3 linked regions of the Homo sapiens genome follow. The protein of the gene in region 1 interacts with the protein of each later gene in a biochemical or structural test. Each region holds a gene or a part of one and is shown on either strand. Other genes may lie near its edges. The genes, in order: PIAS2, HIC1 and MBD1.

What was found.
Region 2: of the proteins of PIAS2 (region 1) and HIC1, one has a biochemical effect on the other in vitro, tested with the Homo sapiens proteins (one study listed by BioGRID).
Region 3: the proteins of PIAS2 (region 1) and MBD1 form a complex in vitro, tested with the Homo sapiens proteins (one study listed by BioGRID).

What each region holds. Positions count from the first base shown.
Region 1 is NC_000018.10:46,806,052-46,809,597, reverse strand, and holds part of PIAS2 (E3 SUMO-protein ligase PIAS2), read left to right. Parts: 3' UTR 1-3,546. UniProt on the Homo sapiens protein: Functions as an E3-type small ubiquitin-like modifier (SUMO) ligase, stabilizing the interaction between UBE2I and the substrate, and as a SUMO-tethering factor.
Region 2 is NC_000017.11:2,058,023-2,060,992, reverse strand, and holds part of HIC1 (hypermethylated in cancer 1 protein), read right to left. Parts: coding exon 2,158-2,970; 3' UTR 1-2,157. UniProt on the Homo sapiens protein: Transcriptional repressor. Recognizes and binds to the consensus sequence '5-[CG]NG[CG]GGGCA[CA]CC-3'. May act as a tumor suppressor. Involved in development of head, face, limbs and ventral body wall.
Region 3 is NC_000018.10:50,271,524-50,275,174, forward strand, and holds part of MBD1 (methyl-CpG-binding domain protein 1), read right to left. Parts: coding exon 3,606-3,651; intron 3,523-3,605; coding exon 3,454-3,522; intron 2,831-3,453; coding exon 2,663-2,830; intron 2,341-2,662; coding exon 2,041-2,340; intron 1,949-2,040; coding exon 1,811-1,948; intron 1,433-1,810; coding exon 1,301-1,432; intron 1,216-1,300; coding exon 1,154-1,215; intron 18-1,153; coding exon 1-17. UniProt on the Homo sapiens protein: Transcriptional repressor that binds CpG islands in promoters where the DNA is methylated at position 5 of cytosine within CpG dinucleotides. Binding is abolished by the presence of 7-mG that is produced by DNA damage by methylmethanesulfonate (MMS).

The sequences.
Region 1 (3,546 bases):
TTTTAGTAGATACGGGGTTTCTCCATTTTGGTCAGGCTGGTCTCGAACTCCCGACCTCAGGTGATCCGCCTGCCTTGGCCTCCCAAAGTGCTGGGATTTACAGGCGTGAGCCACCGCGCCTGGCCAAAATAAAATGTTTTTATCTTTCTTCACTTAGAACTATGAAGGCCTTTTCTTGTTCTGGTAACCCCCCACAGTGTAATTGGTGCTGAAAATAGTTTCGTGCCTGAGGTCTGTTGTCACTCACTCACTTTCTGACAATTAGGTGAGCCACTTGAGGATTTTCTGGCCTGAAGTTATAAAAACTTGGCATCTGTCCTAAGGTAATTGTAAAGGCAAAATGAAAGCATTGAGGTGAATTTAGGTTATATGGCATTTATCTGGTAATGTGTTTCAGAAAAGCTAGAATGAAAATGTGATGTAAGGGATAGCAAGTGTAGGTTGATTCATAATTCTTGGTATAAAACCAAGTTTTCCTTAGTCTTGAGGAATTTGAAGAAAGGTAAAATGTTGGATTTTAAGCAAAGTAGGATTGACCAGAGACTGTTCTGACTTTGACATTCAGACCTTTCAGATGTTCTTCCTTCAGACCAGTCCAAGACACTCAGCATTTCCAGCCAAGTTGTCTTTTTTTTCTGCCAATAAAGTATTCATTAGTTGACGTTTGTTTGTATTTTAAGTAAAGTCAATTTTTTTTAAAGCATTAATTTAATTCACGGGTATGCCTTTCATTTCTCTGGCCTTCAGTTGGTTTAAAAAAAAAAAAAAAAAAAAAAGCACTTAGCCGGACCATTCTTTCTTTAGTAAACATTTTTATTTTCTTAATTTTTCCTGAAAGATTTTCTTCATTTTCATGGAATGTCATAATGACACTACCATTATTTTCTAGCTCTTTGCATAATAGAAAAATGTAGAGCAGTGCACCATTTAAACACGTCTGACATTGGATTTAGTGGTCCTAGGTTCATGTGATTTGGGAGCCTTAAGTTGTTATTTAGATTGATTCAGCCTGATTCACCATCTTTTTTACTACAGTTCTACATGAATGTGGTGAAACAGGTAGAAGAAAATTAAGCATTTCTCTGCTTTTGGAGTCTAATGTTCCTGCCTAGTGACTGGTTTGTAACACCCCCCTCACCCCTACTTTGTTAGGAACCTGCAATTCCTAAAAGAAATAAATAAAGCTGTACCCAATGTCCATTCTTTAATGCTTGCCTGGTTGAATAATGTTTGTTTTTTCTGTTTATGTCAGTAGTACATGCTTATTGTGGAAAATTTAGACAATACAGAAAAGTATAACAATTAATTGCCTATGATTCTGTCACCAGAAAAAATCACTTGATATTTTTGCATCTTCCTTGCCATTGTCTTTGCTACTTCTGCATATTTTTACTTAGTTTCATCATTCTCAGTGTAATTTATATCTTGGGGTTTTTCCCCGCAACCTACAGGCATTATTCCATGTCATTAAAACTGTGTCAACTATTATTAATTTTATGGTACTCCATTGTTATGGATGTGCCATGTTTCATATAACCTTTACTTATTTTGAACAGTTTAGATTATATCTCATAATGCCACAATGAATGTCTTTGTGTATAAATTATTTTCTTAGGATAAAATACTGGAGGTGGAATTTCTAGTCAAGGGTATATGAACACTTTTGTAGTTCTTGATTCATACCACTTTTCCACATGGGTATGTTAATTTATACTGCAGCTAGATGGTATGGGAAGGGTGGTCTAGCCATATTTTCCAAGAACATGCAACGTTTTATCTTTATGCAGGCATCTGCACTAAGACCCTCTGCCTTTCTGACTCTATGGAACGGGGTTAACTGATATGGAGATCATTGGCAGAGATTTTCCCAAGCTTTCTTAGTTTTAAATATATCTGACATGGGCCGGGTATGGAGGCTCACGCCTGTAATCCCAGCACTTTGGGAGGCCAAGGCGGGCAGATAATCTGAAGTCAGGAGTTGGAGACCAGCCTGGCTAACATGGAACATGGTGAAACCCCATCTCTAGCAAAAACATAAATTAGGTGGGTGTGATGGCAGGCGCCTGTAGTCCCAGCTACTTGGGAGACCGAGGCAGGAGAATCGCTTGAACCCAGGAGGCGGAGGATTTGCAGTGATCCGAGATTGTGCCACTGCACTCCAGCCTGGGTAACAAAGCAAGACTCTCTAAAAAAAAAAAAAAAAAAAAAAAAAAATATATATATATATATATATATATATATAAAATCTGACATGTTTCAGAAACACCTACGTATGGCTATCCAAGCTTTTCCCATGATTTTACTGGCACTGTAAAGTTGCACAAATATTCTTTGTCAGACTACGTTTTCCATCTTTAGTTCAAAAGTTTTGTCACTTTTTAAAAAAAGCCTCTTGTACCTAAGGCCTGCCCTTAAGAGGTCAGCTCTCTTTTTCCTCTTCCTGTAGGCCCCATTATGGCCTTTCTGAGCTCCCCAAAGCCAGTAGAATCTACTGAGCCAAAGGCATTCCATCCCCAAACTGAAAAGTGGTAAGGCTAAAAGCTATAAAAACAGGCAAACATTGCCTGTTTTCACTTTATATTCCCTTATGTTTCCAATAAGGGTAGCTGCAGGGAAAGAAAAAAACAGATTGCTACCTTCAGATGTTTGAGGTACAACATTTTCTTGATTGGCGTAGCACAATCATTTCCCAAACTGCTTCCTATTTCTGAATGGCTTTTTTAAAAAGCTTTATTTTGTGTTCTCAAAGCTTAATTATTTTAAGTGACGAAGAGTGTTACCGTGTTGTAGAATAGCATATGCCTCTTATTTTGGCCTTCATCAAACTGTTTAATAAATGTTTAGAGTGTTTTGTAAGTACACGTGGAATAGAGTGTTACAGAAGTTTTGGTTCCAGACATCAGGCAGCTTATAATCAAGGTTCCAAAAATCAAGAATTCTTAAGCTGGGCATGGTGGCTCATGCCTGTAATCCCAGCACTTTGGGAAGCCAAGGCAGGCAAATCACTTGAGGCCAGGAGTTTGAGACCAGCCTGGCCAACTTGGTAAAACCCCATCTCTACTAAAAATACAAAAAATTAGGGCATGATGGCTCATGTCTGTAATCCCAGCTACTTGGGAGGCTGAGGGATGAGAATTGCTTGAACCTGAGAGGCGGAGGTTGCAGTGACTCAGGATCATGACCCTGTACTCCAGCCTGGGTGACAGAGTGAGACCAAAAAAAAAAAAAAAAAAAAAAAAAAAAAGTAACAGGCATTGTGCAAAGAATTTTCCAAGAATGTCTCATTCTTGCAATGGCTTCTCAGAGGAAAGTGGTGTTATTCCCCATTTTACAAATGAAACAGGTTTAGGTAAGTTTCCCAAGGTCACAGTGAATGAGTAGTGGACTTGGGAGTCTGACCTAGACTTACCCCAAAAGCTCTCTGCGTAAACTGAAGTGACGTTAATTAGCTGTGCTATCTAGGAGACTGATATGGGAATCTAGACTTAAAATTATGAGAACTGGTTTCAGATGATGGCCAGAGTAATAAGGAAGGAGTGGATGCTG
Region 2 (2,970 bases), on another chromosome or scaffold:
TGTCCCCAGTCTCCCTGAGGCCTGGACTCGCCCATGAACCCAAGTCGGCTTCTAGACAGCATGTCCCTAACAGCAGCCCTGGGCCCCCACCTCTTCTACCATCCACCCCAGACTTACCACACACCCTTCCTGCTGCTCCTCTTCCTGCCCTTATCAACCTGGGTCCCTCACACTTCGCCAGTTGCGTCCCCGTGGACAGTCATGAGTCTAGAGGAAAGGGGCATCTGGTCTCAGGCCCGTGCTCTCGGGTGGCCTCCACCTGCTCCCTCTCTCCTCACTGGCCTTTCTTTCCGTCTAGCTTCCTCTTCAGGAAATGTCCTGACTCCCCTCAGCTCCCCCTTCACCCCTCCTTGCCCGCCTACCCTCCCTCCAGAATAGCCCCTCACCCTTCTTCCCCTTCTAGTTGATCCTTTTCACCTCCCTGATCCCCTTCATTTCTTCACCGCGGTTCCTCGTCATAGGGGTTCTCACTCTGAACTTTCCCTCTCTACTACCCATGGCAGGAACCTAGTACAGGTCTCCCACCCAGGGCCTTCCACCCTCGGCTCCTGTGCTGGGAGAAACTTCCAGGCGTGGACAGCCCAGCCTGAGGCATTCCAGTGCTGGGGCACCGTCGCCTAACCTGGTTTCTAGCTTTGCCCTCACTCCCCGGAAAAACTGACACTGACACAGGGGCCCTTTCCTTGCCCCTTTAGCTGGTACCTCAGTGGGGAGGCTTCCTTACCAAGAATGAGTTCCTGAAACCCAGGGCCAGAGACAAGGACAACTTAGGGGAAGACGGGGTTTTCGGTGGAGCCAGGGGCAAATCTTAATGGGACCAGTGGGGGATACCCCAGAGCCCATGGCCTGACTGCACAGCCTGCCTGGAGGATGGGTGCGCAGCTCTGCCCTCCCTGAGGCCCAGGACTATGCCAGAAGCGATGGGGTACCGTGTAGGGGAGCCAAGGCCAGTAGTTTGGGGGTAGGAGTCCCCTAGAGTCTCAGAAGACTGGGCTCTTTGGAGTACAGGGTCCCCGGCCTCTCCTTTAAGATTCTCTCCCCAGCTGGAAGGCCGATGACTGGGTGGTCGGGAGGGAGACCCAGCTCTCCTTTCTGTCCCGTTTGCAGCACTGGTTTTGTTTCCTTAATAAATTTTTAGTTATGAAACATACCTGACCTCTTGCTGATCTGTTTCTGGGACTGGGGAGGGAGGCAGGTCCAAGCCTCTGCACCTGTGTGAGGGTGGCCCTTTCTGGCTCCTCCACCCAGCGGGCGCAGCCCATCCAGGTCCTTGTGCAGGGGCAGAAGAGAGCAGCGGGGTCGGGGTCCTTGGTTACTGCTTTATTGCTGTTTGGTTCGAGTATAGAAAATGGAAGCGGCTCTGGAAGAGCCTGTGTACAAGGTAGGAAATATACAAACGAAGAGGAGGGAGCTAAAGAGACCGCGTTCCAGCCCAGCCCAGCCTGGGCTCGGGATGGGGGGCCGCCGGGGCGCATGCAATAAATATGGTCCGGGGCCGCAGGGAAGGGAAGGGAGGGCACCGCGGGAGTGGGAGACCTGGTGGTAGGCTCTTCGCCTTCCGACTCCAGAACTCCCCGCCCTTGGTGACTGAGGAAGGAAGGGTTGGCCCTGGGGCTAGTGCCACTTGTGCAAAATGAGGAACTTCACATTATCAGTCCCGGGGTGGGTGGGAGCGGGGGTGCGGGGGGCCCTCCGGCCGGCTCAGTCCCCTCCCCACTCCCCAACTCTGCCCGACGCTCCGACCCCAGCGGGGAGATTCACAGTGAGAATGGGTGTGGTCGCAAGGGCCGGAGGTAGGGCTAGGAGTGCCCCGACAGTGACACCCCTCCCCCTCTAAGAGCAGCGCGGAGCCGGGGGAGGGGGCCGACGAACCACAGGAAGAGGCGGGAGGGGCCTGGGGTCTCCTTTGGTCAAAGCTGATATCAAAAATATAAATTTCCCTTACCCCATCCCACCCCCGTCCCGGGGTTCTCCCCCGACCCCCGAGCTAAGGCACGAAGCAGTGAGGCCAGGTGAGGCCGCCGAGAGGTGGAGCCGCCACTGTGGCGACGCTGCGGTTGTCCCGGGCACAGTGGGCCCTGCGCGCCGCCCCCGCCGCTCCCTGGGGTGCGGGCCAGGGCCGCGCAGCAGCGACAGAGCGGGCTGGCGAGGGGCGCTCTAGGTGGGAGAGAAACGGTCGATGGTCCGGCCGTCGGGCCCGGCCGCCAGGTGAGCGCCCTGGCTCAGCACCTCGGCCGCCTTGTCGGGGCTGAGGCCCAGCTCGGCCGTGAACTTGGCCAGCGGGTAGAGGCTCTCCAGCGCCACCTTGGGGTCGTGCAGGAAGTGCGTGGTCTGCGCCAGCAGCTCGGCCGCGGCCGCCTTGTCCTGCTGCTTCAGGCTCAGCTGCTCGGCCGTGAGGCGAGCCACAGCAAAGACGCCCTCGGGGAAGTCGAGCTTGCCCTTGCCGTCGGGGCCGGGGACGCCGGGGAGCCCCCCCAAGCCCGCCAGCGCCCCGGCCGCGCCGGCCGCGCCCCCCACGGCGTGCATCTTCATGTGGCTGATGAGGTTGCGTTGCTGTGCGAACTTGCCGCCGCACACCTGGCACTCGTAGGGCTTCTCGCCCGAGTGGATGCGCATGTGCTCCGTGAGGCGGTACTGGCGCGTGAACCGCATGCCGCACGCGTCGCACGCGAAGGGCTTGAGGCCCAGGTGGCTGCGCATGTGGCGCGTCATGGTCCCACGCTGCGTGAACTTCTTCCCGCAGATGGTGCATGGGTAGGGCCGGGTCAGCCAGTGCGTCTTCTCGTGCTGCCGCAGCGTGGCCGGGTCCTTGTAGCTCTTGTCGCACGACGCGCAGCGGTAGGGCCGCAGCAGCTCTCCCAGGCCACCCGGAGCCCCGGCGACCTTGTCCCCGCCGCCTCCAAAAGGGGGCCCTAGGCCGGCGGCCCCAGCGGCCACTTCGGCCGCCTCGGCCCTGCCGTACAGCGCTTC
Region 3 (3,651 bases), 3.5 Mb from region 1:
TTTTAAGGTCTTTGGACCTAGGGAAAAGGGAGCAGGTCTGTATGTTGAATGAGGTTTGCTATGTGCGCAATGGAGCATTACAAAACCATTTCCTACTATTCTGTGTCCTCCATCCACTTCCCCTTAATTATCCTTTATCTTTTTTTATATCTTCTAAAAACTACCATTATAGACAGCTTGTACATAGTCAGATTATAAGCTCCCTGAAGGTAGGTATCCTGTGTCTCCTGAAGGGTAAGCTTTGCAGGGCTCATTGTCCTCAATGCTGTGCACCCAACAGGAACTCAATCAATACTTCTGTAATTGGCCAAGTATAGATGAAAGGGTTTCTAGCCTGGTGGGCTGGTTTGTAGGAGCAAAGGAATCCAAGTGCTTAGGCCAATAGTTTACATCGCCAGTGTCTGGGGCTCTATGCAGGGTCTGTCAATATTCTGCAGGAGCCAGCACTCCTCTGTCCTCCCAACCACCCTAGTCCTTACAGGCATCTACCCTTTGTTCTATGCCAGGACTACAGGGACAGTTCTGCAAGGCATCTGAAGTTAATAACCTCAATAGGCTCAGGAAAGGCTCAAGAGATCCAGCCCAAGCCCTTCCACAGAGGCCGCTCCAGGAAGTGCAGGGCAACCAGAGATCACACAACTACGTGTGAACCCAGCTCACAAAGCCAGCTCGGAACCCAGATCTCCTGCCCATACCACTGCCCAGGCAAGCCCAGCACCATTTCTCTGGTACACATTGCTCAATGTCAGGCAACAGCCCACCCAGAGGTCTCCTGGAGACTCTAAAGGCCTTCAAGACCCAAATGATTATTCTCTGAATAAGAATTTATATATTAAAGCTGACCCCTATAGAAATTCCTTAGGAAAATAGGGACCAGACTCCCTATCTTTTTCTTTCAAATCTCATGATAGAGTACCAAGTCTTTCCCCTACCCCCAAAGGAGAGTCCTAACCTGGAATGCTATTGGGCTGGATCTCAGGAGAAATCTCTAGGGTCCTACACACACGCCCCTCATTAATTGTGACCAGCATAGTGGGTATGGGCCTTTACCTCCCACCACACCATGCCAAACTGCCGGCTATACTTTCAAAACTCAGGGCCCACATCTGGCCAACACCCACTCCTTCCCCACCCCTCACTGTGTGGGGCACACCTTGGCAACCAGACTGCTGTATCTCGGAAGCGGGTTCCACCCAGGCTGAAAATCTCCGTGATCTAGAGAAGAATTAACACCATAGGTCAATGTGGTTGTTGGGGCTACAGCAGGGTCAGGGCAGGGTGGGGCATCCCCAGCACTGACCACGGGTGTGCCAGCCCCTCCTGCCTCTTCCTCTGGGGCCAATTTGGAGGCAGAATCATCCTTGTTCTCCTCCTTGTCCTCCTCTGGGTCAGGTGGCTCTTGCTTCACAGAAGGCAGGCCTGGGTCTACTGCCTGGGAGAAGTAGGAAACAGGCAACCATTAGAAGGGCAGAGTTCACCTGAGGAAAGTCTCTATCAGCCAACCCCTCACTGTGCTGACAAATCCTACTTCCATCACATTTCAACACAGAAAGTCCATCTCTCTGCCTACAAAGCTTTCCCATTCCCATTCCTCACTGACCTCCGTTTTTCTGTTAGCTGGATAGCAAAGCGGGCAAAGCTAGTTGCCTGTGGGAGGTAGGGTGTCTGTTAGACAGGCGGGGTAATTCTGCAGAAACGTCGCAATCAGCACATCTATTGCTCTGCTCAAGAGAACCATCATGGCTCATCATCACTCTGCTTACAGACCACTCCGCTACGGCACCAACAGAACATCCATCACTGCCCCCACCTTGCTAGGGCAGCCAGGCACCAATACGGGAGAAGTCAGGACAGCTGTGCCTGGTGTCCACTCGTCCTGGGTATCCGCCTTCTCTTGCTTCACCTGGGGTAAGGCCACAACCCAACTCAGGCCAGAGCACTGGGCCTCCTGCGTGAGGGAGGATTGCAGCAGACTTGGTCTCAGCTCCCTGGCATGCAGCTGGGTGAGGCTGGGAAGGCAGGACAGGGTGGGGCCCTCACCTGCAACAGGGCTTCTGTGGAAGCTGCAACAGGGCCCGGCACCTGCACAGGACTGCTTGCGCCTTCCCGTAAAAACACAAGGTCAGTGCCAGGCGGGGGCAGCACAAAGCCACCACCTGCTTCCTGCTTCGTTGGAGCCTGGGTATGGTCTGGTTGGGCTGTGCGTGTAGCCAAGGTGGGCTTCAAGGTAGGGCCAAGATGGTGCCGTCGGGCAGAGCTGGGCCTCTTTCGACGACGGTAAGGTGGGGGCGATCCTGCCCCATCCTCAGACTCTGACCAGACACTGGGCAGCAGCCGCTTCTATGGGGAAAGATAGGGTGCTATGGCTACCTGGTGTCCTGACCAATCACATCCACCCTGCCCGGCTCCACATGCCTGCTAATCTCCCATCAGTCCCAGCACGGAATCTGCTTACATATGAGCCCTTCATCACTGAGCCTGCTAGTCTCCTATTAGCAACACCAATGCCACCTAGACTCATTAAGCCAAGAACAATGTCTGTTAATCCTCAACCAAAGCTACTGCCCCACCCACCCACCTACCAAGCCTGCCCACCACTTCCAGGCACTGGGGCGCCTGGCCCAACCTATCCCGTCCACCTGACCCTTCCTGCCCCACCCACCATGGCAAACTGCAGGCATTGGCGCCAACGACACTTCTGGCGCTTCTGGTTGCTGCCCCCGAATTTGGGCTTGTCGCAGCAGAAGTCGCAGCGGCCACAGTCCATCCGCCGTAGGCAGGCTGCACAGGCCCCGCACTTGCGGTTCTGCCGGCGGTTCGTGTAGGGCTGCTGGGGTGGGGGGAATGGGTGGTGCTGTCAACTAGGACTAGGAGAGGCCATCCTCAACGCCTATTCCAGTGCTGGTCCTGGTGCTCCTCTAGCCCCATAAGACGGAGCTACTTGCATACTAGTCTCAGCCTCCTGACTCCCCACTAGTCACTCCTCAGCATTCGCTAGTTCAACATTGGCCACTATCACTGTGCCAGCTGGCCCTCGATACCATTAGGACTGTGGCTGCTCCACTACAGTATCCACTGCTGTATTTCCTAGGCCACCACTAGCTACCAAGAAAATGTCTCTGACCCCCATTTCCAGCAACATTTTGATAACTCTCTATTAGCTCCCATCACTGTGCCTACTCTGTCGCTCATCCTAGGTGAACCCCAGTCACTATGCTAGCTGCTCCTCTGTCAATCCCCACATCAGCTACCAGAGTGTTGGTATATGTGACATGAAGCACTCTCATGCACCTGCTGACCCCGTATTAGTCCTCCATTATCTACTCATCCCATCCTAGGACCCATTATTGTGCCTTGCTGTTCCCCAATAGGCTCATTCCAGCATCTGCTTCTTTGAAGTTAACCAAGCGTCCTGAGATTCTAGGCTTATCCAGGTAGGGTGGGGCCACTCACTAGCTCGTCCTCGTCTACACAGTAATAGATGAACTCGGCAGGTGGCGAGGGGGCCAGGGCTCTGGGGTGCTGTAGAGGCAAATGGGGTGGGGTCAGGGCAGGTACTGGGTAAGGTCAGGGTTGTGCCTTCCCTCCACCCACTGGGGCCTCACCGGCTCTGTGGGCTCTGGGGACTGTGATGGGGGTGGTGGAGGCAGT